Regions from separate parts of the Homo sapiens genome. Here regions 2, 3, 4, 5, 6 and 7 are each linked to region 1. Evidence: fine-mapped expression QTL. A gene starts in region 1. Each other region holds a variant in brackets. All regions are shown on one strand. Distances are between the middles of the regions.

Region 1 (4,308 bases):
AAAACCCCACCAGATCAGTGTTTGTCTGGGACTGAAGGGATGACTAACAAGGAGCAGAGGAAAGCTTTTCGGGATGATGGCACTCTTCTCTGTCTCCATTACGGCATTGGATACAAGTCTCTAGAACTCCCAGAACTCGTCACTGAAAAGGGTGAATAGTACTGTATGTAAATTAGGCCTTAATTTTTAAATGGGAAAAATAAATATAAAGACAAAATACACTGCTGTATTAAATCAAATGATAGATGTAAAAGTCTAATGTATACGTATTTTTAATGATTTTGACCAATGCTTCCAAATTTCTCTTAAGAAAGATTGAATCCAGTGCATACTTCCTCGATCAGCGAATGAATGTTTGATTCTTTCTACCCTCATCAGCACAGTGATCCCAAGGGTCACACTTTAGACGATGATTGGCTCAGTGCTGGGCGCACTGTATCAGTTTCATAGAATCATGGATTCCAAGCGCATAAAGTCCCCACAAGAGATAAATCCCCCACTCCTGAAGCAACTTACTGTTCTGATGGGGGAAGGGATGGAGGAACTTACTGTGTGTGCTGGGGAGGGGAGATGGCCCCTGAACTCAGGGAGCTCAGGAAGTTCTGAGGACTGGGTGAGAAACATTGAAAAAGGAAGGGTGAATAAGGAAAACAAAACACGTCTGTGAGCTGAGAGGTCTCAAGTGACAATCGTGTCTCATTCCTACGCCCCCAGTGCCTACCTAGCCCCATGCATAGCAATGAGGTTGTGGGAATGAACAAATGAATGAATGAATTAATGAGTGAGTGAATGAGTTGAGAGACTACAAAAGCTTAGGGTCAGCCGAGATAGACTTCTTTGCTTGGAGCTTGGGGCTTCAAGGTCAATTTAAGATTGTGGCCATGCAAGCTTGAGGACTTTTTGCTCTGAGTCCTGTTAAAATTAATGAAAATGGAGACCAGGCCTGAAGAGTCCCTGAGCAAAAATTAAAAAAACAGTTAGGCCTCATAAGTGACCTCAACTTTGCTTGATTTGCAAATATCAGTGAAACTTAACACGAGCTATTTCTTGTAAATGTGTATATTAAGGAAAAATAGAACTTAAGCTCAACCAATCAAAAGAAACTTATATAATTAACTAGGGTCTTTCCAACAGGATAGGCCAAATAAGGGAACTATATAACTATAACTAATTAAATATTTTCTTCAGTTTACTTGTCCTGTAGGAGTCTTCCCCTTGCATTCCCCCAGTGGAGCTCCTCAACCTCTTCTGTTTGGAGCTGCCTGATTCATGAATTGTTGTTTGCTGAAATAATCTGTTTAAAATTTTATTGTGCCTCAGTTTACCTTTTGACAGTCCCATCTAAGGAGTAGAAACATGGCACTAGTGAGTAGGGGGAGCATACATAATCACGGGAGTCCAGCTGGGTCCCCACACACTGAAGGAGCAGATGACACAGGTACCGGACATCAAAAATTGATGCTTCTGATTCTAGGCCTTGGGGTAAGTGAAGGGTGTGGTCTTGGGCCTAGTGCTGGGTCATTTCCACTGGAGCTGGTGGCTGTACAGGCGAGATAGCATTGAGCAGGAGGAAGTGGAGGGCACTTGCCTGCGTGCTGACGTAGGCTGGAGGCAGGGGAGGAAGGGGGTCTTGAGATGAGGTGGGTGAGGGGAAGTACTGCGGAGGCTGTAGGAAGCCTGCACGAGGGACTAGGAGTCTAGAGGGAGCTGATGGTGAGTAGAGTCGACAGGAGGAGAGGCAGGGAGAGGGACAGAGAGAGGAGACGTATGGATAGGGAAAAGGAGAGGCTGCTGGGGTGTGTGTGAGACTGTGTGCATGGGCGTGTGTGTGTGTGTGTGAAAGTGAATAAAAGACAAAGTGAGACTGTGAGTGTGAGTGCATGTGCATGCACACCTGTGTGTGAGAGTACAGGAACCCCTCCCTCAACCCAAAATTTATGCCCTGAGTCTTAACAATTTGCATTTTTCCCGCTTGACAAAAGTAAGATTTCAAGTGAGCCTGTAAGAGGTTATTTGCAACAGTGAACACAAGTGACTGTTCTGAGCAGCCAGGAGCCTGGGAGAGAGAGAGAGGAAGGAACAGAAAGAATCTGCAATGAATGAATGAATGAGAGTTTATAAGAACTTCCCTGTGAATGTATATATGTAAGAAACTAGGGTCTGAGATGCTCCATCTCAGCCTAAGAGCCCGCACCCCTGGGTCTCTGAGCCCAGAAGATTCCAGGAAGGTCTATACCTGACGTTCCAGAAGCCTCACCCCAGCCCCCTTGCTGGATCCTAGGGACCAGTTTCTGGGGGAGGTTGGGGAGGGCGGGGAGCCCTCTGACTGTGAGTCCTCCCGGCTTGGGGCCCCAGACTGGGTGGAGCAGCCACACCTGCCTGAAGTTCCGAGGAAAAGGGCGGAAACAGCTGCCAGCACCGCCCTCATAATAGGCTCAATGAATCCCTGCGGTTGGCTGGGGGCAGTGGGTCCCACACTGCCTCACTTCCCTAAATGGGCAGCTTCACTTTTAGAACCCCGGGTCCTTCCCTGGCAGGCCCAGGTGGCACATCCTGTGTCGGGTGGGCCCTCACCTTGGATCTCCAGGCCTGACACTGCCCAGCTGGATGGAACCATGGCCCCAGCCTTCCTGCTGCTGCTGCTGCTGTGGCCACAGGGTTGCGTCTCAGGTGAGGGGAGAAGGGGCTGACTTGTGGAGGAGGGAGTGGGTACAGAGGCAGGAGCTCAGGGCCTTTTTCTTACCCTCCTTACCAGCAGTTTTCTTGTTTAGTGTTTTGTGGGTTGGGGAAGGAGGAGATTAGGGCTGACTTAGCTCTTTACCCTAATATCAGGCCCCAGGCGAAGCTAACCCAGGCCTCCCAAGCCAAGATAAAGCTCTGGACCCTCTCTGCATTGGCTCCTTTATCTGCTAGGCTTCCTCAGGCTTTAAAGCAGAGCCCTCAATTTCCTCACACAAATAGCTTTCTCTGCTTGGCCTCTGTCAGGAAGCCCTGCTTAGTTATGACAGCAATCATTGCATCATGTGTGTTTTGAACTGAATTTGAACATTTTTCTTGAAATGCTGATGCCACATCCTGTCCCTGCCTCTGTCCTGAAGGGACCAGTGTGTGAATGCCTTTCCCACCTCACAGATACCAATGCTCCTTGAGGAACCTCACCCATTCCTGCCCCTCTCGCTGCCATGGCAACCAAGTTACCACTTCCTGTTCAGTTCTGGGCATGGTGGGGGTTGGCAAAACTCACCACTGCCTGTGAGAGGGGTGGGAGGTGTAGGCACACATGAAGACATTGCCCTGGAGACCCATCCCAAGGTCACCCAACTCTGCACCTCCCAGAGGGTAGAGAAACAGCTTCCCACTGCCAGGGCAGAAAGGGGTCTCTCTTGTGCTAAGAAATCCTGGGCTCATCCACCAAATAATGAAGTTGGATCATTCTGTTTAGTTTGCAAGGGACAGAGGGATGCTTAGAGAGGGTGCTGCTTCACACAGAGCCTCAGCTCTAGTGGCTGCTGGCTGGGACTTGGGACGGATATCCTGGATTCTGGTGGGACAGATGTCCTGGATTCTGGGCCCTTGACTGTCACAGCTCTGGGTTCCATTGGGGGAACTGGGAGGCCCCAGCATGTGGGAAAAGGAAGCATGAGTTGAGCATGCACTGTGTGCAAAGCACTGACCTGGGGCAGAATTCTCACAGCAACCTGTGAGGGGTGTGGTGCTATTCTCACTTGACTGATAAAGAAACAGAGATATTTCTGTATCAGTCAAGTGTCTGTTTTGATATTTCTGTATCAAACAGGTGACCTAATCACACCACTAAGTGGTAGAAACAGGGTTTCAACCCTTGTTTATTTTGACTCCAAAATGTGTGCTCTCTGTTCTCTACTATGGGGGAGAGTCTTTTTATATGTGGTTTTTTTGGAAGACTCTGGGGTGAAATTATCAGAAGAGTCAGCTGAGCTTAAGGCAGGCAGAGGGGTGGAGGGAGCCCAAGGCAGCTTTCTCCCTCTCTCTGTCCCCTGAGTCACCCTGCACACCCCAGTTCTGCTCTGTCTCTACCAGACTGTGGATTATGAAGGCTTGGACCACATCTTACTCCTCAGCATAGAGAGAAAGATATTGCAGGTGGAAAGTGAATAATTGTAGAATCCTGTGGTTCACACTCCATTGGGAGTTTGTTTACATGTATATTTAGACAGGCTTGATCTATGGGTTTTATGTAACTAGAATATTTTAAAACTAAACACCAGATGGAATGAACTAAGGAGAGTTATTATTTAAAGAGGACTAAGTGAACCTATTTGTGAAATA
Region 2 (4,308 bases), 86 kb after region 1:
CAGATAATTAAGGAGGTACAGAGTTCTGAATAAAAAGGTTTTTAAAAACTAAAAATTTTGGGGGAGAGGGAGTAAAGAGGGAATATTATTGATTGTTCCAGGCTCGGGGAAGTAAATGAATGGTGAAGTACACAAAGAAAAAAAGAACAAAGAAGATCTGGGTTAGTGACCTATTGCTATTCTCTTCCTGTAGGAGAAAAGGATGTTCATTGAAGAACTAGCTAAGAGCTAAACATAAAAGCTAAATCTCTCAGACACTAAACACTCCTTTTGTGTGTCTTATTCCAGCATGCCAGTACTAGCAGCATCTTTTTTTCCAATTTCATGTAATCAAAAACTTATTGTTCTGTAAGAGATGAGAATGAAACTATCACACAATGATACTCACATACATCTTCTGTGGCCAAGATATTCATATATCTTCCCTGGGTTGGAGATGTTTTTCATCATTTTCTCTGGGAGTTTCTTGAAGTTGTAAGCAGGTAGCATGGATCTTAGATATGTTACCTCATCACAGGACACCAAACCTGGATAAGCAGTTATCATTCTGGCCGCAAGACTCACTTTTGGGCCAATAACTGTGTCAGAAAGACAGGTGGAGAATTTTTGGGCCATGTCTTCCACCTTCCTCCCTTAAGTCACAAAGATAACAGTCCAATGTCCTATTCTACCTGTATATTCGTGTCTTGCTACTGCTCCAACCACGCCACAGAATACTGGTCCATTAGTGATACTGATGGAAACAAATCTAGGGATCTGAAAAGCAACAATGGATAAACATACAGTCAGAAGCCTCCAAGTCAGGCACTAGATCTGCCACTCCCCAGATCCAGAAGTCTAGTTTTAGAGCTTAGAATGGAAAAGGCCAGAGGTTGCTGTCAGTCTATATAACATGAGGGCTACAAAGTACTGAATATTAGGGAGAGAACCAAAAGAAACAGAATGGTTCCCCTAATTCAGGAGTTTTAGTTTTAGTTGGGGGTTATTAGTAAACGATTTTCTTTCTTTTTTTTTCTTTTGAGATAGGGTCTTGCTCTATTGCCCAGGCTGGAGCACATTGGTGTGATCTCAGTTCACTGCAATCTCCGTTTCCTGGGCTCAAGTGATCCTCCCACCTCAGCCTCCCAAGTAGCTGAGACTACAGGCACACACCACCATATCCAACTAATTTTTTTTTTTTTTTTTTTTTGAGAGAGATGGGGTTTCATTATGTTGTCCAGGCTGGTCTCAAACTCCTGGGCTCAAGCAATACACCCGTCTTGGCCTCCCAAAGCACTGGTATTACAGGTGTGAGCCACCACACCTGGCCAGTAAAAGATTTTTAAAAATTTTACATCTGGGCCAGGTGCGGTGCTCACGCCTATAATCCCAGCACTTTGGGAGGCTGAGGTGGGTGGATCACAAGGTCAGGAGATCGAGACCATCCTGGCTAACACTGTGAAACCCTGTCTCTACTAAAAATACAAAAAATTAGCCAGGCATGGTGGTGGGCGCCTGTAGTCCCAGCTACTCGGGAGGCTGAGGCAGGAGAATGGCATGAACCCAGGAGGCGGACCTTGCAGTGAGTGGAAATTGTGCCACTGCACTCCAGCCTGGGCAACAGAGTGAGACTCCATCTCAAAAAAAAAAAAAAAATTTTACATCTGTGGTAAGGCAAATATTTAAAAACCATTTGAGAAAAAAAAATTGAAGGGGTTAATTAACTTTCCCAGAGTTATATAGCAAAAACGAACAGTAAGTCAGAATGAGAATCCAGGCCTCTTGCCTCCTAGACTGATATTATTTCTACTATACCATGTTGTCTCAGATAAAACTGAAAAATGAAAGTAGATAAAGAGATATCAATACAGGATTAATAGATCAAATAATGCTAGAATGTCACAGTTAAGGAGTGATCAGAATGTCAGGACTGCAGACAGAAGGCTTTCTGAAGTAAATTAACATTTGGAACAAATTTTTTTTAATGAGTAATATTTTAAAAATTCATTAATGCATACATACATTCATTTCATTCACTAAGCACTGAGAAGTGTGCATAGTACTGAGTACTTGGCTGGATGTTTAAAATATCCTGCCCTAGAGAAGTTAAGTTTGGGGAGGAGGGTGGTAGGTTTGAGGGAGGGGAAGAGATACTTATATATGTCAGCAAGACAAATACTCCATATTAGAGATTGATATAGCACATTAGCAGAGCAAACAGAACAGATGCACTAATTCACACTGAAGAGTAGATAGAGTATTCTTAAAGGAGAGGACATTTGGTCGGACCCTGAAAGCTGAAGAAATTGCTAAAGTGGGGGAGTGGTACTGTCTGGTGGGAAAAGGTAAAGGCTTTGAGATGCCTTGTGTGGTCATGCAAAACTAAGTACTTCAAGACGGCTAGAGCACAGATGTGAAGAGAGGTGTTTGGATTAGAGAGAGGTAATGGGAGAAGTAGTCT[C/T]ACCTCTCTAGGGATGGAAGAGTATTAGACATATGAATTATTTTAAAAGAGGACATATACTGTTCTAGGTGAGGCAAAAGCCCAAAGGTGGCAAGGAGCAACTCATACATAACAAAATAAGTAGATTTACTCACTGACATGAAAATTTCATGTGACAGGTAACAAGATATGTAGGTGGAGAAAGATTATGCAATGAGGCATAGTCACATTAAATCTATAAACAATTTTCAGTGGTTCAGACAACATGAGAAGTAGCAATCATGTTAACACTATTACCTCCTAAGCCATCAAAATTATTTGTCTTCCTCAAAGGACAGGATTAAGGGCTCTTGGCTGGGTGCTGTGGCTCATGCCTGTAATCCTAGCACTTTGGGAGGCTGAGGTGGGCGGATCACCTGAGGTCAGGAGTTCAAGAGTCCAGCCTGGCCAACATGGTGAAACCCCATCCCTACTAAAAATACAAAAATTAGTGGGCATGGTGGTGTGTGCCTGTAATCCCAGTTGAGGGATTCTGAGGCAGGAGAATCTCTAGAACCCGGGAGGCAGAAGTTGCAGTGAGCCAAGATTGTGCCACTGCACTCCAGCCTGAGCAACAGAGTGAGACTCCGTCTCAAAAAAAAAAAAAAAAAAAAAAAAAAAAAAAGTCTCTTACCATTCATTCACTCAGCTCACTGCCCCCAGGGTGAAAAAAAGAGACACTTAAGACAAGACCATGCTGTCAGTTCTGCTGCCATATGAAGAGCAAGACTGAAAATCTTTTAAAATTTCATGATGCTTCCTCTGCCTAAATACCCTTTCCCACCTTCTCCATTTGCTGAACTACTTTTCTTCTCAACCTGTCTCAAAAGTCATCTTTATAGTCAAGATTTCTTTGGTACCTCTGTGGAGAATTAACCACTTCTTCCCATAGCACATTGTTGTAACTCCTGTAGCATTTTATTTCTGCACTTTAATTTCGTTGTATTAAAGTTAGTTGTTTACTTAGCTGAACTGGTAAAATCTTATTTCTCTTTATGTCCATAGCACCTAGCACAGTGCCTGGCTCATAACTGTGTTCAAGGAATGCTTGTTGAATGAATGCATTTATGCATGCCAGAAATTCAGCTATTAGCAAGTCAATAATGAACAAATAATACTTTTATCACTTAGTTATTTCTTATTTCTTTCTATTATACTTTATAATTCCTCCTTGTTTTTCCCGGCAATCCATATTCCTTCTTTCCTTTAAAACCTTTCTGCATTGATAAAGAATGTACTCTTTATTTGATATATGTCATTGTATATAAAGTATTTCTGGTACTGAAAAACCATAATAATGATATTCTGAGACTGCACTCCCTATGTCTCAAAAATATCCTGAAGAAATATGCATGGAATCATCTTTCCTCTAAATGAGCTAAAAGCTGGAGCTATTTCTCAGATTAGGAAGAGGAATTCAGAGGATATCTCAAGGTGAACAGGGTCTTTGAAAAAGAAGGCATGGAAAGTAGTTTTGGGTCTGAGAGCTCATGTAATGCAGAGAGAAATGAGCAATGGTATCTGCTACCGAGGCCACGTAGGTACCTCTGAAGCTTTAGCATCTGCTCAGCATTTCCAAAAATATCTTCCTTAGAACATTAGTTCCTCTGGATGTTTATAGGTCTTTCTGGAGAAAAGTGTTTGATGACCAAGTAAATTTGGGAAATGCTGACTAAAACTAAATATAACAAATTTCTTTCCCATAGCACTACTCAGAACCTTTGATATGTTAATGTTCATTGTGAACCTTGAAGAAGGAAATATAATTTGCATCACTTCCCAAACATATTTGGTGATGAAAATCTTTTCTTTTTTCATGAGCATATTAAGGGAGTAATAACATTCTACCA
Region 3 (4,308 bases), 48 kb before region 1:
CATCCAGGGCCTAGCTTAGCCCTGTGCCCTCCAGGGAATGGGCAGTGAGCCAAAGCTTGGGCAGTGAAGAAAGAGAAGCTTATTGGGGTCCTCCAGATGCCCATTTGACCAAGTGGCTGGGCACACTCAGCAGCAGGGAAAAAGCACCACTGTTTCTAACCATCACAGAAAAAGGCAGGAGAGCTTGGCAACTCTAATTTCAGGGGGAATGCCCAGGGGCCTTAGGATTAGTGGTGACCCCTAGCTTCTCATTTTGAAGCTTAATGACTCTCAACTGATAAGGGCAGGTCCAGGGAGAGGATCCAGGTCCCCTGAGCCCCTGGCTACTACACCTCCCAGCCTCACCCCCTAAGTCTCATGTCAGCCTCATTGTTTGGCTATCTCCTATGTCACATTTATCCCCCCACCCCATTACTCAGTGATCTTTCTTGACTACAGCCCTTTGAGAAGATGCTGGCAGTTAGAGTCAAGGGTAGGGATGTCTGGAATGGACCATTAAGCCCTTTGTGCTCAAGCATGGGGAAACTTTAAACTCATTCCAAATAAATGGAGGAGTCCTGTTAGTAGCAGCAAAAATGTTAAGGGCGATACGTACGATGTGGAAGGAAGAACCAAAAGCCAGCAGGCCTGCATTCTGGGGCTGGCTCTGCCCTTCAGCAGCAGGTGACCTTAGGCCAGGGGCTTTTCTTCTCCATGTCCCCAGTTTTCAGTGATGAGAAGGTGGAAGGAGAAGATTTCTAGGATCCTCTCCAGCTCTAACACCTTGTGATTCAGGAAGTCTGAGACCCACAAATACGAAGGGACAGAACTCACCTTGAGATACCACCAGGCAGATGATTCTGACAATAGAGATCTCAGGGGATTTAGAGATTCCACACCCATGGAATCCCAAGGCCTCTACTCTGAGCTCAGTCATGGTGACGGTGAAGACGCCATAGAAGCGATCATCTTGGATGAAGTATCGAGGGTCCCAGGCCGCTGTCCTGGGACTGTCCCCTACTATGGCACATGTATTGGCTGATATTTTCCCGCACCAGCTTTCCACCTGTAAATGTTGGGAGGGCTAGTACTGGTGTTTTACAGAGGTTGCCTCGCCCTCCAGGCTGGGAAGCAACTCTGTCCACTGTGCTCACAATGGCCTCCATGCCCATGCTCATACCCTCCCTAGACCATCCTCGACAAGTGGCCACTACATACTTAAAAATAAGCTGTGACACACCTCTCTTAGCTCTCCAGTAGCTTCCTCTTGTACTTAGAATCACCCAAACTTCATCTCATAGGCTTCAGGGCTGCTTGACTCCCAGCCTCATCAATCACTGTCCTGCACTCAATATGGAGTTACTAAATAAGCATTTTTTTCTTTGCTTTTTATTTTTTTTTGAGACAGGGTCTCACTCTGCTGCCCAGGTTGGAGTGCAATGGTGCAATCTTGGCTCACTGCAACCTCTGCCTCCCAGGTTCAAGCAATTCTCCTGCATCAGCCTCCCAAGTATCTGGGATTACAAGTACATGCCACCACACTCAGCTAATTTTTGTATTTTTAGTAGAGACAGGGTTTCAACCATGTTGGCCAGGCTGGTCTCAAACTTCGGACCTCAGGTGATCCACCTGCCTCAGCCTCCCAAAATGCTGGGATTACAGGCGTGAGCCATTGCACCTAGCCAAATAAGTCTTTCTTGTACAAGCCAAGCACCTTCTGACCTCAGGACCTTTGCACATGCAGCCCTTGCCACAAAGTGCCCTTCAAAGCACCCAGATTTCAACAGAGCTGGAGAATGCTCACCATTCAGGGGTCTGCTTGGTGTCATCTGCTCAGGGAGGTGTTTTCTGATCCTCAGTATTTCCACAGCTCCCGCATTACTGAGTTAACTTTCCTGTTTACAAGTGTTGTTTTTTCTTACAAAAATTTGTTATTTGCAATTATTATAGAGCAAGATTGTGTCTGTTTTTGCTCACTACTGTCTCCTTAGAGCCTAGAATAGTGCCTGCCACATAATACGGGCTCAGTGAATTATGTTGAAGCAATGAGTGAATAAAACACAGCACAGACAGTGCCAAGTTTGAACTTTATCTCAGCCACCTGCTAGCTCTGGGACCCCGGACAAGCTCAGAGTCACACTGGGTTTTCAGGTCTCATTATCTTCATCTGTAAAATGGTGACAATAGTGCCACGAATAGTGCCATAAAGGCACTTTGAAAACACTACAGTGCAACATGACCATTGATGGATTATTATCCTTATTATCTCTGATGTTAGTGGAGTGTGGGGCAGGGAGGACTCCCTCCACCCGTCCCAGTGCCCCTGCAGCCCGCTCACCTGGAGACACATCCAGCTGGAAGCCCATCAAGGGGTACAGGATCCCAGAGGT[G/A]TTGCGCATGCACCAGTATCGGCCTGAGTCCTGGAGCTTGAGGGCCACCATGGTGATGTTGACCACCTTGGCCTGGGCGTCGTCCTGCAGCAAGTAGCGGGGCCCTTTCACCCAGACTTGGGTGAAACCAGGCTCACACTTCTTCCTGATTTTGCACCAAACCTTGCCCTCCATGCGGTTTTTGTAGCCCTTACAGAAGCACTGCACAGACAGAGTCCCCCTTTCAAGGAGCCTCACTTTTGTGTATGCGCTCCCAGCAGAGGGGCCTGTGGAGACAAGACTTGTTGAATAAGGTCTGGCAAGAGGAGAGGAAGAAGACATCATGAAAGTTGAAGATCATGGTGAAGGGCGGGGTGGATATTGTCCTGCTGTCATGGAACCCACAGATTGAGGGGGAAATACAGCCCCACCCTCAGGGAGCTTGCCCCAGTCTGAAGGGAGGTAAATGGGCCCTGAAAACAGCTAGCTCCCAGTATTAGGGGGCAGACAGAGGTCCCCCTCTCAGGGAGCTTTCAGTCTGATGGAGGAGGCAGGTATATCCCACAGTGAGCCCCCAGTCTAATGGAGGAAATGCAGCACTTACACTTGGAGCTCCATCAGACACAGCCCCTTTCCTCATGGTATTTTCTAGTCTGATGGGAGAGTGACATTCTTGTGGGAAAAACCCAGTGAGAAAGATGCAGAGACACAAACACAGGTCATTAAGTTCTGAAATTTCAGTGCCCAACTAATTAGGTAGATAAGAAAATCCAGTGTTTGAAAAAATGATTAATAGTTATTTATTTCACAAATAGGTTCACTGTAGTCCTCTTTAAATAATAACCTACCTTAGTTCATTCTAGCTGGTGTTTAGTTTTAAAGTATTCTAGTTACATAAAACCCATAGATCAAGCCTGTCCAAATGTACATGTAAACAAACTCCCAATGGAGTATGAACCACAGGATTCTACAATTATTCACTTTCCACCTGCAATATCTTTCTCTCTATGCTGAGGAGTAAGATGTGGTCCAAGCCTTCATAATCCACAGTCTGGTAGAGAGAGAGCAGAACTGGGGTGTGCAAGGTGACTCAGGGGACAGAGAGAGGGAGAAAGCTGCCGTGGGCTCCCTCCACCCCTCTGCCTGCCCTAAGCTCAGCTGACTCTTCTGATAATTTCACCCCAGAGTCTCCCACAAAACCACACATAAAAAGACTCTCCCCCATAGTACAGAATAGAGAGCACACATTTTGGATCAAAATAAACACGGGTCAAAACCTTGTTTCTACCACTTAACGGTGTGATCGGGGCACCTAAAATCTCTGTCTTTGCATCAGTCAAGTGAGAATAGCACCACATCCCTCACAGGTTGCTGTGAGAATTCTGCCCCAGGTCAGTGCTTTTCACACAGTGCGTGCTCAATGCATGCTGTATTTTCCCACACGCTGGGGGCTCCCAGATCCTCCAGTGGAACCCAGAGCTGTGATAGTCAAGGGCCCAGAACCCAGGACATCTGTCCAGTTGCCAGCAGCCACTAGAGCTGAGGCTCTGCGTGAGGCAGCACCCTCTCTGAGCATCACTCTGTTCTTTGTAAACTAAGCAGAATGATCCAACTCCATTGCATGGTGGATGAGCCCAGAATTTCTTAGCACAGGAGAGACCCTTTTTTGCTGTGGCAGAGGGAGGAACCTCTCTGACCCTGGGAGGTGCAGAGTTGGGTGACTTTGGGATGGGTCTCCAGGGCACTGTGTTCATGTGTGCCTACACCTCCCACCCCTTTCACAGGCAGTAGGGAGTGAGTTTTGCCAACCCCCACCATGCCCAGTGGTCTCTGGTAAAGAGCTACGAAGTCAGCCCCAACCTCTTCCTCACTGAACCCACAAAAAACTAAACAAGACAATTGGGCCAGAAAAGCAAGAAGGGTGGTTTTTGATAAAGATCTAGAGCTCCTGCTTATGTAC
Region 4 (4,308 bases), 27 kb after region 1:
ACTCAGTACACACACACACACACACGCGCGCGCGCGCGCGCGCATCATCAGAGTAATCTACAACTTTATTCTGTCCTCCAAGGAAACACGAGTTTATATTCTCAAAGCCCATATTTATCTTGCTGTCAATACCTGGCAGCTACCTTCTCACTCACATCTCCCAACCAAATCTCTCCTCGAGCCAGTTTTTCCTGGCTCTTTAATCCTTTGCCCGCCTACTGATAGGTCATTAGTGTCTCCACTGAGAAGACATGTTTCCTCAGCCAGAACCAGAATTCGATAAGTTGGGGCTGAGTCAGGTGAAAGAGTGGATTCTCCATGTCTCTTTGATCCCTGATATTCTAGGTCTTGTGTTTTAGGAGTTGTGATATTTGAGGCTGTGGTGATGGTTTGGAGATCCAAGGCATGAGATTGACTAAAGATGGGTTTGTTACACAACAGTAGCCTTGTAACACAAAAGCAGTGAATCAAGAGCGAAGGCGAGTAAGCTCACTGTATCTGTTAAAGGATTGAGACTCGCTTCTCAGTGTTTCACAAAACATTGATTTTCCAAGAGATATTAATAAGTGTTATGTGAACTTACTAGGACCATGCTACTAATATATTTTCTCCAAATATTTTTAATGTAAGGAAAAATAAGCCATGTTTATTACAATTTGCAAGAACCAACTTTTAGAAACTCTTTTAATATCTACTAATAACAGGATAATTAAATAAATTGCTATATCCACACCAGGGAATCCCACGTAGACATTATAAAGAATGAAGTAAGCCTGTATTTGTTGATATGGAAAGATGTCCCCGATATATTAAATGGGAAAAATGACAGCCCTAAAATAAGCTTGTGTGTGTGTGTGTGAGTATGTGTGCACGCACATGTATGTACAAACACAGAAAAAAGTCTAGATGACTAAGCACCAAAATATTAGTAGTAGTGATTCCCTCTGGGGAATGGGATTATAAGAGTGGAAGAAAATTCCACTCTTAATAAAATTGTTAACAAGTCTGGCTCTGGAGTCGGACTACCTAGGTTTAAACCTAAGTTCCACCTTTTACTAGTTGGGTGATCCTGGACAAGTTATTTAACATCCCTGAGTCTCAGTTATCTGGAAAAATAATATTACCTGCCTCATAGGTAATGATGTAATACATTACTCATTAATGTGTTAATACAATATGCATTACAATATTGATTAACATACTATATTGATATATTAACATCAATATAATACATTGATTTATAATGATGCTGTAAATACTTTATGTAAAATGTTTAGAACAATGCCTATCACATGGTAAGCACTCAATAAATGTTAGTGTTTTCAGTGGGGAAGTTATGGACAACTTTTACCTTTTCAGAGTGAATTTTTATGTATTTTTCACAGAAAAAGTCATTAAATATGGTTTTTAAAAGATTTTGAAAATGCTTAACATATTTTATATAGTTAATAGTGTTAAATTAAGTTTAGCCTAAAGTTGCCTCCTTGCATATTTTAAGTCTGGCCTAAAAGTTTCAGTACATAGTGGATTGTAACGTAACTGGATGTGTAAAGAGGCTGTAACCTGCTCTTGTGCCAATCACCAAGTTTCCTTCAAACAAAGGTGGCCAATTATGTTCAAATAAAGCAAATGCCAAGCTGTAAGAAACCCAGCTGCTTCTGTATTTCACTTCTGTTTTCCGTATGTCATTTTCATTTTTCTACCCATAAATCTTCTTCAGCCATGTGATAGGATTGGAGCCTCTCTGACCTATTCTGATTTTGGGGGATACCTGATTTGTGAGTCATTTTTTTGCTCAATAAAACTCTGTTAAATTTAATTTGTCTAAGGTTTTTCTTTTAACAATAGATATAATCCCCTTTGAAGCTGTGTCCCTCCTAAGTATGGCAGGTAACCCTGGGAGAAATTGCCCGTTACTAGAAGGTACGTTGTTTTGACTGCATAAGAAGTACTTACCTCCCAGCACTTTGGGAGGCTGAGATGGGTGGATCACGAGGTCAGGAGTTCGAGACCAGCCTGGCCAACATGGTGAAACCCAATCTCTACTAAAAATACAAAAATTAGTTGGGCATGGTGGTGGGCACCTGTAATCCCAGCTGCTTGGGAGGCTGAGGCAGGAGAATTGTTTGAACCTGGGATGCGGAGGATGCTGAGATCGTGCCATTGCACTCCAGTCTGGGCAACAGGG[C/T]GAGACCTGGGTGACAGGGCGAGACTCCATCTCAAAAAAAAAAAAAAAAAAATGGAAGTACTTACCAAGTAACTATTGATATCATTGATGTATGTCTTCTCCTTAGTAAGTGCTATTATGCCTTGAGTCATAATTTTAACACATAGGTCTTTTAAAATTAGTTAATATTTCTAAGCTGACATTTTAAAAATTCTGCTTAAAAGTATTGGAGAATCAAATTTTGTAGTAACTGATTTGTCTTAAGGACTATTTTTGCTTTCTACTCTAATCCAGGCATAGGTTATAACTCCAGAGCTCCTGTTGATGTTGTGAAATTTAGAACAGTTTTAAAAGAGTTTCATGGTTAAATAATATTAGGATGCACTTTGGTTTCAGGATGTATTTTCTTGTTTGATCCCGAGCTGCCCAGTGTGCTGTGGGTGTAAAGGGAAGAACTTGTGACCTAGCTTAGATGAGGACATTCCAGGGAAACAGTGCCCCACCATCTATGGGGTCCACCAGTGCTGTTCCATTAGTGGGAATCGAACCCTCTGATACAGGAGGTAGAAAAAAGCTATTTAGCATTTTTTCATGTGTCTGTTGGCTGCAAAAATGTCGTCTTTTGAGAAGTGTCTGTTCATATCCTTTGCCCACTTTTTGTTGGGGTTGACTGATTTTTTTCTTGTAAATTTGTTTAAGTTCTTTGTAGATTCTGGATATTAGCCCTTTGTCAGATGGGTAGATTGTAAAAATTTTCTCCCATTCTGTAGGTTGCCTGCTCACTCTGATGGTAGTTTCTTTTGCTGTGCAGAAGCTCTTTAGTTTAATTAGATCCCATTTGTCAATTTTGGCTTTTCAGTGATGTGCAAATCAAAACCACAATGAGATACCATCTCACACCAGTTAGAATGGCGATCATTAAAAAGTCAGGAAACATGCCGGGTGTGGTGGCTCACGCCTGTAATCCCAGCACTTTGGGAGGCCAAGACGGGTGGATCACGAAGTCAGGAGATCGAGACCATCCTGGCTAACATGGTGAAACCCCGTCTCTACTAAAAACACACACACACACACACACAAAAATTAGCCGGGCATGGCGGCGGGTGCCTGTAGTCCCAGCTACTCGGGAGGCTGAGGCAGGAGAATGCTGTGAACCCAGGAGGCGGAGCTTGCAGTGAGCGGAGATCACACCTCCAGCCTGGGTGACAGAGCGAGACTCTGTCTCAAAAAAAAAAAAAAAAAAAAAAAAGGCAGGAAACAACAGGTGCTGGAGAGGATGTGGAGAAATAGGAACACTTTTACACTGTTGGTGGGACTGTAAACTAATTCAACCATAGTGGAAGATAGTGTGGCAATTCCTCAAGGATCTAGAACTAGAAATACCATTTGACCCAGCCATCCCATTACTGGGTATATACCCAAAGGATTATAAATCATGCTGCTATAAAGACACATGCATACGTATGTTTATTGCGGCACTATTCACAATAGCAAAGACTGGGAACCAACCCAAATGTCCATCAACGATAGACTGGATTAAGAAAATGTGGCACATATACACTATGGAATACTATGCAACCATAAAAAAGGATGAGTTCATGTCCTTTGTAGGGACATGGATGAAGCTGGAAACCATCATTCTGAGCAAACTATCACAAGGACAAAAAACCAAACACCACATGTTCTCACTCATAGGTGGGAATTGAACAATGAGAACACTTGGACACAGGGTGGGGAACATCACACACTGGGGCCTGTCGTGGGTTGGGGGGAGGGGGGAGGGATAGCATTAGGTGATATGCCTAATGTAAATGACGAGTTAATGGGTGCAGCACACCAACATGGTATATGTATACATATGTAACAAACCTGCATGTTGTGCACACATACTCTAGAACTGAAAGTATAATAATAAAAAAAAATAAAAGAAAAAGAGAAAAACTATTTAGGCAGTTAGTGAGGGCAAAGAGTCCTCGGCTGAACTTCACTTCTAACAAAAAGCAACCCAAGAAATCACTTCTTTTCTAACAAAGAGCAGCCTGGAAGATTGGGCTGCAAACATAGATAAGGAAGCTGGAAGCTTCCACAAGGGGGATGGCTGCAGCTGCACAGATAAAAAGGGCTACCTGGGGCCAGGCATG
Region 5 (4,308 bases), 110 kb before region 1:
TTACTGTTGTGCGTACTTTTTGGAGCATGTTATAGAAGATGTAAGAGGTTGCAGTAATAAGTGGGGACATTGGTTGGGGGTAGATGGCCTGGGAACACTTTACTCTGGCTCCTATGTGTGGTAATTAATTCAGACTCATGCTAGCTGAACATCGCCATATGCCACACACTGGCATGGACACAACCTTACCCCTAGAACTGGCCATGCCATATAGGTCTTTTTGACCTCAAACCAACTTTGGGAGTGTCCAAAAGGGTCCCTGGAATATCTCAAAAGAATTTATCTTCTCTTCTTGTAAAAACAGACATGTTAAACTAGTGAGGCTTATTTGATATGTTAAATTGCATGAGAAGCAATGTCAAATAATGGGTGATGCTAAACCTTCTTTAAGTTATGTTTGTTATTGATGAGTGTTCCAGAAATTATGTCAAATTCCTAGAAATCTGATATGTACTAGTATAATGTTATCATCCATAATTTTAATTATTATGTTAAAATGTCGTATGTTACCAAAGCAACCAAACTCCCTTGTCAGTTGCATGACACAGAATTGTAAGAGATTCATGATAAAGGCTGATGAGTACAGGTTTCTGATAATTTTAAGCTCATACTATAAGGCTAGGTAAGAATTTCCAGACCTCTAATGGAAAAGTAATGTATTTATAAATCTGCTAACCCAAGATCAAGCAAAACAAAAATTAATTATGTGAGACTAAATTAACTGATGAGAATAATTATAATTTTTATAACTTTTCGTTTGAAACATTGCTGGTTCTTTAATGTCTTGCTTTCTAGATTTAGGAAAACTTTTTTCTATAACTTAAAACAATTTGATAAAATATACTTTTGTAAACAAAAAGAAAACGTTTTTTTCCTCCCTACCTGATCACCCCATAATTTGGAAGCACTTATTGAATATTCTTATTTTCATGGCAATATAGGTATTTGCATAGGTTCAATAAGAATCTGTTCTTATAACAAGACATAATTGGGTAAGTCCTTAACTTGGCCTCCTAGCCTAGAGAGGTTTTTAAAGGTCTAATCTGAGATTCCTTGTTAACAAATAGTAAAACAAACAATAAAATGAACAAATAACTAAGATTGACTTATACAAAGTCAATAAAGCCCCTTGGATATTATCAAAACTTTGACAAAATGATGTATTTTAAAAATATGCATACATAGAATCACTTTTCTTGTTGCACTTATGTAAATAATCAGATCAAGTTTAATGAGACTACTGATTTTGCACAAAAAGAAGAGTTAACCATGATTATTTTTGGAAAAATTTGGAATGACCATAAAAAAGATTGTATTTCAATAGAAAACTATAGCACCCATCATCAAATTCTGGTCTTTGTTATGTCCTTGTAAATTGGATTGAATCCTAACATTTTCTAGTTTCACTAGAAACTAAAACTGCTTTTTTCCGAAGCCCTGCCAGCTGAAATTGGATGACTTTAAATTCAGAAAAATTACTACAACAGACCATGTATGGAAAATTTTCATGCTGCTGCTGTGTGGGTCACTTGGAGAATTCACTGGAACACCTGATGATATTTCCAGAGACATTCAAACTGCAAGCCAGGAAAATCCATCAGGTTGCAATTGCCATCCTCATTCCATCATCTAAAAATGCTTCAAACTCAAATTTAGAAATCTTGACAGGCTGCTCTCTGGACTTAAAGACTAAGATCATAATTTGTTCCTAATGTTAACCTTTTTTTTTTCTTTTGTTTTTATAGAATGCTACCTTGAATTCCCTTCAAGCAATACTATCTGAAATAAACAATTTAACCTCAATAGTACTCCAAAATAGAAGTCCTTGATACCTTAGCAACTTAACAAGGAGGCTCTTATTTGTAAAAAAAAATATTGTTTCTATATTAATAAATTAGAAATTGTTGAGCCCAATTTAAAGGATCTTAAGGAACAAATATGTCTTTTATCAGACAGGTGTTGCCTCCTCCACTGATTTATTTTATTGGTGAAATATTGGCTCCTGGGAATCTGTGCTCCAGGGAATTTAAAAATCCTTGGCTATTATTCTCTCTGTAGTCATTTTGTTTACCATCCTACTATATCTTATCCTCTCAAGGATTTCAAAGCTTTCCAGAAGGCACTCACACATCAAATGATTGCCATCATCATTAATTGACTTGAAGAACTCAACAACCCTACCACTGAAGCCCATGATGCAGGTAATGATGCCATGTAATCTTATATCCCAATACAACTGTTGAGGATAAGATTACATGACTCTTTGTTCCAGTGACTATTTCACTAGTGGTAACTGAGAGGAATGCTACCACCTTCTTCTTAGCTTGCTGAGAGGGTGACCCAACGCGGTGGGATTGTTAAAGTAAATTAAAATGGAGACCAGACCTGAAGAATCCCAGAGGGGACAAAAGAAGTTATGATTTGTAAGTGACCTAAACCTTGCTTGATTTGCAAACATAACCAAACTTAACTTGAGCTATTTCTTGTGAATGCCTATATATATCTATATCTATAT[A/C]TATATTTTTAAAAGCAGAACTTAAGCTCAACCAATCAGAAGTTACTATTTATACAAACTTAGATAACGAGGGGCTTTCCAAGTTGAGAGACCAAAAAAAGCAATTGTATAACAGTAACCAATTAAATACTTTGCTTTACTTCTGTGTCTGTCTTATAAAAGTCTCCTCTTTGTGTTCCTCAGTGGAGCTCCCAAACTATTTCTGGTTCGGAGCTGCTCAGTTCATAAATTGTTCATGCTAAAAAAAACTCACCAAAACTCTTTAAAATTTTACTGTGCCTCAGTTTATCTTTTTAACAGTTCAAAAAAGATTAAAATAAATGATAATTATATTCTGTCCTGGAGAAGTAGGGAAAAAGTCATTCTTATGCATTGTTGGAAGGGAATAATTGATAGCCTTTTCTTGGAGAGCAGTGGTGTAATGAATTAAAAGTCAGAACAAGAAAAAACAAACAAACAAAAGCACATGTTTTGGAACCAGCATTTCTAAGTTTTGTTTTTTTTTTTCTCAGCAAGTATTTTGTTGAGCATCTTCCTAAAAAGTCATGCCTGCAGCCTTTTTTTGCCCTGTATGGATGCACTGCCTCCACCAGTTGGTACACAGCTGTCTCTTCCTCATGTTTCTGGGGCTTCTCTTTGTCTCCTCTACAACGTTTTCTTGATTCTTGGATCTTTGTTTACTCCTTTGTACTGGTGGAACCCATCCTTGAGTAACTACGGGAGAAAGGGGGAATGGAAAATACATTTTGACAACTTTTATATTTAAAAATGCCTGTTTTACCATGACAGTTTGACTGATATAAAAAATTCTGAGTTGGAAACAATTTGTCCTCAGGATTTTGAAGGCATTGCTATGTTACCTTCTTGCTCCTATTGTTGTTGAAAAGTCAGGAGCAATTATGATAACTATGGCAATATGTGATCTGTTGTCTTCACTTTATCAGCGTTTTCTTTTTGTTCTCGGTGTCCTGGAATGTCACAGGGATGAGCCTTGGAGTGTGTCTATTTCCATCCCTTTGCTCCGCACAGTGAGTGGCCTTTTCGATCTAGAAATTCACAGGAAAATTTCTTGAATTAGTTCATGCATGATTTTCCCCTCTCTGTTTTCTATGTTCTGTCTTTCTAGAACTCCTTTTATTCAAGCATTCACCTCCTGGATCAGTTGTCTTTTTCTTTTTTTTTCTCTCCCATTTCTCTGTTGTTCTCATTCTCTCTCTGCCTCCCTCTGTTTTGGAAACAGCCCTTGGAGAAAAAGTTTTCTGTTTTTATTTATGGTTCCTTAGGTGGTCTCTGTTTCTTCCCAGTTGCCTTCACTATTCTCTGTTTAGTTTCTTTCTTCTCTTTCACTTGAGAGCTTTTTCTCAGGCCTGGGTAACAAAATTCTAAAGATAATTGGATGCTGTGAGCCCACAGTGGGGCTGGTGCCCTGGGAGTTTCACAGGAGGGTGACTCCTTGGCCATTTGCTTGAGGAAGTGCCTTGTCAATATCATTCAGCCTTCTCTCTTGGGCTGCTCAGGATCCCCAGGGAAGACTCACCCCATCTCTTGTCTGGAGGAAGAAGATCTGGCTGCCAACTTTCTGGAATCCAAATAGGAGAAGAGGGCTGGAGTGTTTCTCAGCTTCTGGTACATGTTCTTCACATAATCCCATGGTTTTCAGGACATTGTCACCATCCTCACCTATACCTATTGCCCACCCCTTCCCTACCACACACAGAAACCCAGCCTTCTTTGCAACCTCTCTAAGGCATTCATTCCCAGTTGTCTGCCAAGGTGGGTCAAGGTCGCTCATC
Region 6 (4,308 bases), 73 kb before region 1:
TTCCTTAGACATTATGTTCCTGCATAGCACTGGCTCTGCATCTGGCCTTTGTGTTCCATTGCCATCTGTCTGTCCCTGTGTCTTACCATGCCACATCCTTGTGCTCTCATCTGCTTGCATGTCTGCTGATGGAACTGGCCAAGTGCCCTCACTCCTTTGCATCTTTTTATTATGATACCTATTGATGTTTACCCAGAAACCTTAGAATCATTTCGCCAAAATCTATAAAATTCATGATGAGATTTTCACTACGGGTGGATTCTTCTCGGTTTATAGGTGAGGAAACCGAGCTAAAGAGGTGAGATGACCATCCCAGTAGGCAGGGTACGGTACTGAGAATAGAGAGCGGGTTTCCTGGCCAGAGTCCTCTCTCCCTACCACATCACAGGGAGGAGGATGGGCTGATCAGCCCGACTGTCTCCCTCCAGTGCCTCTCCTGGACAGGGACCTATACTCTCCACTGAATTGTTTCTAATCAGTAGTTTTTGGCAATGAGACAGACTGAAAAGCACAGGGTCAGGCAGTGCGGGAAAGGTGGAGCAAGGATCTAAGCAGAGGAGAGTGGGACATGAAGGCATTTTCTAGAGGGAACATGTGCGTGTGGGAGAGACTTTGCCAGCAGTAGCGTTCAGCCTCTTGTCTCCCGCAGGGTTCCGGTGTTCAACATTGTCATTCTCCTGGCTGGTGGATTCCTGAGTAAGAGCCTGGTCTTCTCTGTCCTGTTTGCTGTCACGCTGAGGTCATTTGTACCCTAGGCCCACGAACCCACGAGAATGTCCTCTGACTTCCAGCCACATCCATCTGGCAGTTGTGCCAAGGGAGGAGGGAGGAGGTAAAAGGCAGGGAGTTAATAACATGAATTAAATCTGTAATCACCGGCTATTTCTAAAGTCAGCGTCTCACCTTCCTGCCCACTGCCCTCGTTCCTCTAATAATCTTGGGTGGGCATTTGTGCCTCAGAAAAGAAGTTACAGCCCCAAACATGCTTGGTCCTTCATTCCACCAGCCACTTGGGGTTGGCATGAAATACAGACAGCTCAATGCTTTTCACCGTAATTCTCTTGTGGGGGCTGTGACATGCAGAAGGCACACCTGATACTTCTCCTGCTCAGTTTTGCCCTGGACCATACAATTTTGGCCTGACCTGGACAGAGCTCCCACTACAGAAGCATCCTGCTCGCCCCATGCTGGGACTTCCTCTTTCTAGCATCAGACACTTGGGTTTCATGCTTATGTGTGGTTCTTTCCAACACTCCCAGAAAAGGGTGTTGAAGATTGTGGAACCTGGAGAAATAAGACATCGTGGTGAGAAAGTGCATCCTTCTCAGAGAAAAGAGTTAAACTGAGTATCTTCTTCTGGGGAAATACTGGCAGGCCGAGATGGGATCCATAGGAGAGCAACAACAGACCATGTCAGACATCCTGTGTGCATTTATCGCTGGATCCTGAAAATAGCCCCGTGAAGGCAGAAATGTATGTGACTAGAACGAGGCCACATGAATAAGCCACTGCCCACTGGCAGGAGTGAAAACTGAAGCGCTCCTTACCTGAAGGACCCCAAAACCATATAGAATAGAATAACCAGGAGTTCCGCCTGTGTCTAAATGCCTCTTTTCCTGTATCACACAAGGGTCAGGGATGGTGGAGTAAAAGCTCTCCCCCTGGGAGGCTTCTGGAGGCTGTCCCCATGTGCTTGCCTAGTTCCCCACTCTGCCCTCCTCCTCTTCTCTCAGTCTGCTCCTGGAACACCTGCCTCAGTTTCCATGCTCTCTCCAGTGCCCTCCCCGGTGAAGCAGGTAGGTGTTCAGGCCACCACAGAGACAATCTCTGTGGGAGATTGTCTTGCAATCTCCCACAGATTTCAATCAGGATTTTGTTATTTCCTACTTTGAGCTTTAAAGGGAAATGGGCCTCATGGGTGGGGAAAGGATGGTGGGTCCTTCCAGCCCAATTTAGTGATGCCCAGGGCAGATATTATCCTCAGTTCCCAAGAGCAATCATACTTTTCCACACATACCGTGTGTCTCATGTTAGGTAAATGTATTTTTACAATGAGCACCACTTCTGTGGAAAAAGTTCCCTGCACGGGGAGGTCCAGCTTCCAGACTGCTCCATCGCATAAGGACTTCCCCATTCCCCTAAATGCTGCTCTGTCAGAACCTGCCCAGGTAATGGTAATGACCCTAGAGAGATGATTTCTGAACCGCAATTTTGAGCCCATTAGAAGGTGTGTGGTGGGCATTTATTTCATCCTGATGCTCTGGTGAGAATCTTTGCAGACGCACTAGATCCAGAAGCTGTTAATCTTGGTGCATTTATTTTCCTACCTAAAAGAACCAAGCAGCTCAGAGGCAGTGACTGTACAGGATGCAGTGTTTATAATAATGCTGAGCTTGCTGGTCTGGAACCCCACACTT[T/C]AGCAATCCCAGCATTGTTCCTGTTTATGAAGTTGACAAAGTGACCAGGGCAAGGGGGTATTATCATTAAATACACTCTAGGAGAGGCAGAACACATGAGGGCAATGTTTTTCAGAGGTCTTTAGGCCACCGCATCAGATTCTCCTGGAGCATAAAGCAAATGCTTTATGAGTCCAGGGCCCCTGCAGACCTACTGTATACTAGTATACAGCTCCCTCTTAGTGGATCTCAAGCTTGTTTCCAAAAAGTCATTACACTCCTTACCAAAGCCCATGACACATTCATACAGATTCATCCAGACATAACCCACTGCATGGTCCAGTGCATGCTTGTGTGCTTAACTTATTATAGATCAAGTGTTATTTAAGTCCAACATATTAAACGTGACTGAAATATTATATGCACTAAATCGGAAGACAAATGGCCGTGCTGGATACTCTCCCATTTGCACTTACAGGCCACGCCATGCTCCATCCTCCCCATCCTGCCTGGGAACCTGACCAATGTGGCTAAACCAGCAGGCTCCCTGGCTGCCAGCTTCTGGCTGGTTGAGCCAATGGGAAGCATGAGAGGAGAGCCGAGGGTGGGGAGACAGTCAGATCAGGGTTTCTGTCCTCAGGGCTCCCTCCCTGGCAGGTGGTGGCAGGAGTGGCTGCATTCCCCTCTGAAGGCTCCTTCAAGCCTCTCAGCAAACAGCTCCCATCTCCAAGTCCAGCCACCTGTTCCATCCTCTCCTCTGTAGGCCCAGCAGTGGGAATGACCCACCACTATTGCCAGCCTCAGCATACTGAAGCACCCCTTACTGGATTCCCTAAATTCTATGCACATGTTTATTAAATGCTCCTCAATTACCCAGTTTCAATGAGCCAGCGGTGTCTTGCTGTTATCTTGACTGATACAATAGTGTTGTGTGGCTAACGACACAGGTCTTGGAGGAAAACCATGTATGGGTTTGAATCTAGCTCTGCATCCTTGCAGGGTGTCTGATCCTGGGTGACTCAGTTAACCTTCTGGGCTTCAATATTCCTCCTTGCCTTAATGGGCATGATAGTGCCTAACCATGCCAGTGATGATTTTGGATGCTAACAACAGAATCCAACTCTGGCTATCTAAAACAGCAAGGGAATTCTAGGGGGATATCAGTAACTCAGAGTTGATGAGAGGCTGGGGGATTGGGTTTAGAAAATGGGCAGAAGCCAAGAGAGAATGGACAGCAGAGGCCACATGAGACAGTCTGGACATGTTGCCATCAATGCCACTGCCCTGGATACTGGAGGCCACCATGCTATTCCTAGACTCTGAATCCTTAAATTGCCTCTGAGTAAGTAATCTGCAACTGGCCCTGCATTTGAGCCTCATCCGCAGATCTGGGGTCCTGGGCAGAATCATGCATGTGGCCAGGCTTAGGTCAAGTCACGTGCCTGCAGCACAGCTGCCGGGAGAAGGGTGGGAGGAATAGCTGCTTCCATCCTCAATAGAAGGGGAAGCAGAACTCTGCATCTGGTGAAACTCACACATTGGGGCCTGTGCCCCCAAAAGAAAAAGGTGTTTGGTACTGGAGAGTCAAAAGATGACACACCTCCATTATACCATCTCCCAATGTTGACAGGATCCAAGGAGACGCCTGAGTAAAGCACCTGACACACAGTAGGACTTCAATCCATGGTGGTTACTGCTATTACTGTTATAACTGGGGTCTCCATGCCTGTGCCTGGACAGGTTAGCTCAGGGAAGCCCATACCTGGTACTCAGGCAAAGCCCCTGAGTCACCGAGACATGCTGCAGGGTCCATCTTACCTATATGCAGCTCTTGCAGACATGGTCAACTTGGACTCCTTGCCTCAGAACCACCTAAGCTGTTGCTAAAATACAGATTCCTGGGTCCCTTCCC
Region 7 (4,308 bases), 41 kb after region 1:
GGTTCCCAAAATAGCAGCCTCATGTCTCCCCCAAAATATCTCCGAGACGGGTCCTTCCTGAAAGGGGAACAAAGCCACAGAAATAGGGAAGCTGGAAGTTAAAGGTCAGGAAAGTCGGTACCAATGTGGGCGGCTGCAGAGCAAGCAAGAGTGGCGGGGCAGGGAGAGCCAGCCCCAGGCCGAGAGGAGAGGTCCCAGTCCCAAATGATGGCAAAGAGATGTGCAGAACAGAACTGGAGGGGGTTTTAAGACCAAGTGCCTCCAGAATAGACCCAGAGAAGGTCAGTTACTTCTCCAAGGAGGCCCAGCAAGAGCAACAGTGAGAAAACCAAACCCAGGTCCCAGGTTTCCTGGTTCCCAATTTCCCACAAACACATGCTGTGCCATCCGCTCCCAACTTGTATAAGAACCTAAGCTCCTTCAGGGCAGGATTTTTGTCTGTTTAGGTCACTGCACAGAGCAAGTGTTCAAAGCGTATTTGGTAAACAAAGGAGTGAATGAATGTCTCCTCCCCAGAGCTGTCCGGAGCCCACAACACCACAGTGTTCCAGGGCGTGGCGGGCCAGTCCCTGCAGGTGTCTTGCCCCTATGACTCCATGAAGCACTGGGGGAGGCGCAAGGCCTGGTGCCGCCAGCTGGGAGAGAAGGGCCCATGCCAGCGTGTGGTCAGCACGCACAACTTGTGGCTGCTGTCCTTCCTGAGGAGGTGGAATGGGAGCACAGCCATCACAGACGATACCCTGGGTGGCACTCTCACCATTACGCTGCGGAATCTACAACCCCATGATGCGGGTCTCTACCAGTGCCAGAGCCTCCATGGCAGTGAGGCTGACACCCTCAGGAAGGTCCTGGTGGAGGTGCTGGCAGGTGAGTGGGCAGTGGCTGCCTCTCTGGCCTGCCCCTGTTCCAGGCCTCATGTTTTGGGCGTCTGTGTGCAGAACCACCCACTGGGCTCTCAGGGATCCTGGGAAAACCCATCGTATGGTCTCATCTCCCTACTCAGGGCTACCAAGGATAGTTGTGCAGGTTGCTCACTATACAAGGGGGCCAAAATCCAGCCCGGACTCCTTTTGCCAGACTGTGTTCCCTGGTGCAGAGCTGCATCACCTGCAAGAAGGGCACCTTTCTCTACTTTGCATTAAGGCACTCTGTGAACTAGCCTGGCCTTGGCCCTCCTTGCCCAAACAGCTTTATCCATCTCCATCCAGTTAGCATGTGAACATGATAGGAGGTCCTTAAGGAGGAGGAGATTAATTTATTCCCTCACCAACCAACCAATGGCCCTATCAACGTAAGTGAAGCACCAACCTGGTGCAGAAAATCACCCCTAGAAAGGAACACTGCTTGTGCTGGGCAATGTGCTTCACTTCTCTGGGCCTCCATTCTCTCATCTGTAAATGGAGAGGGTGGTGTCTGTCCTGCTGACCCCATAGGGTTCCTGTGAGTTTTTATTTGGCGGGGGGCGTTGGGGGCAGGGTGTGACATGTGCTCCAAGCCTCCTGCTACTGAACTGTCTTGGGATCGTCATTCCAGGTGTGAGTAGGTGGGCCAGGGTGTCTCCTTTCCACCCCCGAGCTCTGCGCAGGGACCACCCTCCAGGAAGGCCTTCTGCTTGAGTCTGCAGAACACAACTGTGTCCCCAAAGGAGAACAAATCTGGGGCTACAAAGGCCTTTTCTGACTCTCCTCCTT[T/C]CCAACCCCTTCTCCCAGTATGGCTCTTTACCATGGAAATGAGGTCAGGAGTAGTATTTGCCTGACTTGGGGAGGCCAGGGGAGACTGCCAGTCATAGACACAAACCCCACCTCCACCACTTTCCTAAGGATGGCCGGTGGCAGTGAACTCCCTTAGCCACCTCCCAAGAGGGAGACAGAAAAATAAAAGTAGCCCATAGCTTGTGTAGACAGCTTGACAGTTTAGATAGGATTTTCAAGTACATCCACGATTGTATTTGCTCTTCTTAGCCCCTGTGCGGAAGGAGGGGGGCATTGCAGTTACTGAGCTCCGATGAGGTGCTGGATACGGCACAGAGGTGCCCTCACGGAATCCTGGCAACCCTGCTATTAAGGAAGTGTTCCTAACGGCCCACTTTATAAGTGGGGAAACTGAGGCTTATGGAGTGTAATGACCTGATCCACATAGGACCAGTGCCCAGGGGACCTCACCCCACCCATAAAGGTTCTCCCGCCAAGGTTCTCCCCCTGCCTCGAGGAGGAAGGGGCTGGAGGCTCATGGCTCTGCCTCCCATAGACCCCCTGGATCACCGGGATGCTGGAGATCTCTGGTTCCCCGGGGAGTCTGAGAGCTTCGAGGATGCCCATGTGGAGCACAGCATCTCCAGGTACAGCGATGGGTCTTTCCTAAAACCCGTGGGCAGACTTCCACCCTGCAGAGCCCCACGGGGGTGGGGGCTGGGCATCCTGAACTACAAATTACAAGGCAACTAGAGCCTGAAGGGCCCTGGATATCTCTTATGTAAACACCCCTCCACCAGCTGCTACATGTTAGTTAGTTAGCGTGACTGTGTCAGTTGTTCATTTATTGGAAGACTTCCATAATGCTTTGTAAAGAGCAGTTGCTCTACGACTCCTGAATATCAGCTCCCGCCCCTCCCCTGGCAGCCCCCAGACATCCCCATAATTCAGCAACAATGAATGTTTTAGTACTTTAGTACAAAGCTAAGACCCCCAGATCTCTGCTTCATTGGTAGGACCAGAATCAGTTCTGACTGGTCCATGCCTGTGTACTGGTGTTTAAACGTTGTTCATATAACCACATGTGTGTACACACACACACCCATGGCATAGCACTGTATACAGAAGAAAACTGCTCAGTGAGGGAAGGTGGTGTGTTTAAGTGCACTCAGCAGGTTAGTGGCAGAGCATGCCTAGAACTCAAGTCTCTTGACTATGGGCTCCCAAAGCTCCAAAAAGGCCCATCCCAGGGATGGTGCTGGGTGGGATTTGCTGAGGTCCTAGAAGCTCCTGGTTTCTCCCCATTCCCTGAGAGAAGATTCTAATCTGTAGGCCATCTCAAGGCTCCCATCTGCCTTCTTGTCTCTCCAAGGAGCCTCTTGGAAGGAGAAATCCCCTTCCCACCCACTTCCATCCTTCTCCTCCTGGCCTGCATCTTTCTCATCAAGATTCTAGCAGCCAGCGCCCTCTGGGCTGCAGCCTGGCATGGACAGAAGCCAGGGACACATCCACCCAGTGAACTGGACTGTGGCCATGACCCAGGGTATCAGCTCCAAACTCTGCCAGGTGGGCTTGGAGAGCACAGCCATCAAGGGTGGACTGGGCAGGGATGGGAGGCGGTGCCGAGAGGGGCCACATGAGTCCTTGGACTATTGCAGGGCTGAGAGACACGTGAAGGAAGATGATGGGAGGAAAAGCCCAGGAGAAGTCCCACCAGGGACCAGCCCAGCCTGCATACTTGCCACTTGGCCACCAGGACTCCTTGTTCTGCTCTGGCAAGAGACTACTCTGCCTGAACACTGCTTCTCCTGGACCCTGGAAGCAGGGACTGGTTGAGGGAGTGGGGAGGTGGTAAGAACACCTGACAACTTCTGAATATTGGACATTTTAAACACTTACAAATAAATCCAAGACTGTCATATTTAGCTGGATAGTTTTGGGCATCATGAAAGTCTCATTTTCTTCCACAGGGGTAAGAAAATGAATTTGGATGAGAAAAAGACAAGAGATTTTGCTCCTTGAGGCCCAGGACCATAGGATACCACATCCCTCCATTCTCACAGGCTCAATCAGCCAGTCAGTTTTTTTCTTCTCTCTCTTCCCTTCCCTAGATCTGATCGCCAAGTTCTGCCTCCTCCTCTGGGGTTTCTCTAGCACCCAGTCTTCCTCTGCTCTCCTCCCCAGCATTCACCCTCTCCATCAGCTTCCCCTGGATTATGGAACCTCCCTGCCCCAAGGCCCCCTCCAGCTGACTCAGTTCTTCCCCACCAAGGTCAACTCCTGGCAGACTCATCCATTCATCTCCTTAGAACTCTGTTTTCATCATATCATTTCCCCTTCGGAGAAATGACAAGGGCTTGATAATGTACAGCATTATCAAACTGGGAACTGATGGTTCAAGCCCCTCATCATATAGAAGGGAAACTGAGGCTCAACAAGGGAAAGGAACTTACCCAAAATCCCCACCCAAAATCCCCAGTAGAGCCTGGAAATCCAAATTTCACTTGGCATTCAAGGTGCTCTTTCCTCTGACTCACTCCTACTTATTTGTTCAACAAGTATTAGTTTGAGCAACCAGTCTGTGGCGAGTACTATTCTGAACACTGGAAATACAACA

Which allele goes with the higher level. Alleles are on the strand shown, and positions count from the first base shown. SD is a standard deviation of normalised expression in the study named. Not every link is listed here.
With allele C in place of A in region 5, the expression in B cells of the gene that starts at base 2,475 in region 1 is lower (moderate effect, 0.51 SD a copy in Schmiedel 2018).

Evidence for each region. PIP is the estimated chance that this variant, and not a neighbour inherited with it, causes the effect.
Region 2: its variant is fine-mapped to the expression of TREML2 in whole blood (TOPMed, PIP above 0.99).
Region 3: its variant is fine-mapped to the expression of TREML2 in whole blood (TOPMed, PIP above 0.99).
Region 4: its variant is fine-mapped to the expression of TREML2 in blood mononuclear cells (TOPMed, PIP 0.97).
Region 5: its variant is fine-mapped to the expression of TREML2 in B cells (Schmiedel 2018, PIP 0.95).
Region 6: its variant is fine-mapped to the expression of TREML2 in whole blood (TOPMed, PIP above 0.99).
Region 7: its variant is fine-mapped to the expression of TREML2 in whole blood (TOPMed, PIP 0.95).

Annotation. Positions count from the first base shown.
Region 1 is chr6:41,199,316-41,203,623 of GRCh38, reverse strand. It overlaps TREML2 (triggering receptor expressed on myeloid cells like 2), which reads left to right and starts at 2,475. Exons shown (of 5, transcript NM_024807.4): 1 at 2,475-2,670. The coding sequence starts at 2,616. RefSeq lists an enhancer at 2,187-2,256.
Region 2 is chr6:41,113,746-41,118,053 of GRCh38, reverse strand. It overlaps the pseudogene ADCY10P1. Among named protein-coding and RNA genes, the nearest start is that of TREML1, 38 kb to the left of the region's middle. The variant C/T (reference allele first, on the strand shown) is at 2,441.
Region 3 is chr6:41,247,660-41,251,967 of GRCh38, reverse strand. It overlaps the pseudogene TREML5P. Among named protein-coding and RNA genes, the nearest start is that of TREML4, 21 kb to the right of the region's middle. The variant G/A (reference allele first, on the strand shown) is at 2,370.
Region 4 is chr6:41,172,125-41,176,432 of GRCh38, reverse strand. No RefSeq gene overlaps it. Among named protein-coding and RNA genes, the nearest start is that of TREM2, 11 kb to the right of the region's middle. RefSeq lists a silencer at 1,546-1,665. The variant C/T (reference allele first, on the strand shown) is at 2,189.
Region 5 is chr6:41,313,662-41,317,969 of GRCh38, reverse strand. No RefSeq gene overlaps it. Among named protein-coding and RNA genes, the nearest start is that of NCR2, 20 kb to the left of the region's middle. The variant A/C (reference allele first, on the strand shown) is at 2,516.
Region 6 is chr6:41,272,572-41,276,879 of GRCh38, reverse strand. It overlaps TREM1 (triggering receptor expressed on myeloid cells 1), which reads left to right. Exons shown (of 4, transcript NM_018643.5): 4 at 650-3,275. The coding sequence ends at 755. Among named protein-coding and RNA genes, the nearest start is that of TREM1, 12 kb to the left of the region's middle. The variant T/C (reference allele first, on the strand shown) is at 2,418.
Region 7 is chr6:41,157,822-41,162,129 of GRCh38, reverse strand. TREM2 (triggering receptor expressed on myeloid cells 2) reads left to right here. Exons shown (of 5, transcript NM_018965.4): 2 at 517-867; 3 at 2,248-2,338; 4 at 3,064-3,257; 5 at 3,350-3,622. The coding sequence ends at 3,366. Among named protein-coding and RNA genes, the nearest start is that of TREM2, 3.1 kb to the left of the region's middle. The variant T/C (reference allele first, on the strand shown) is at 1,692.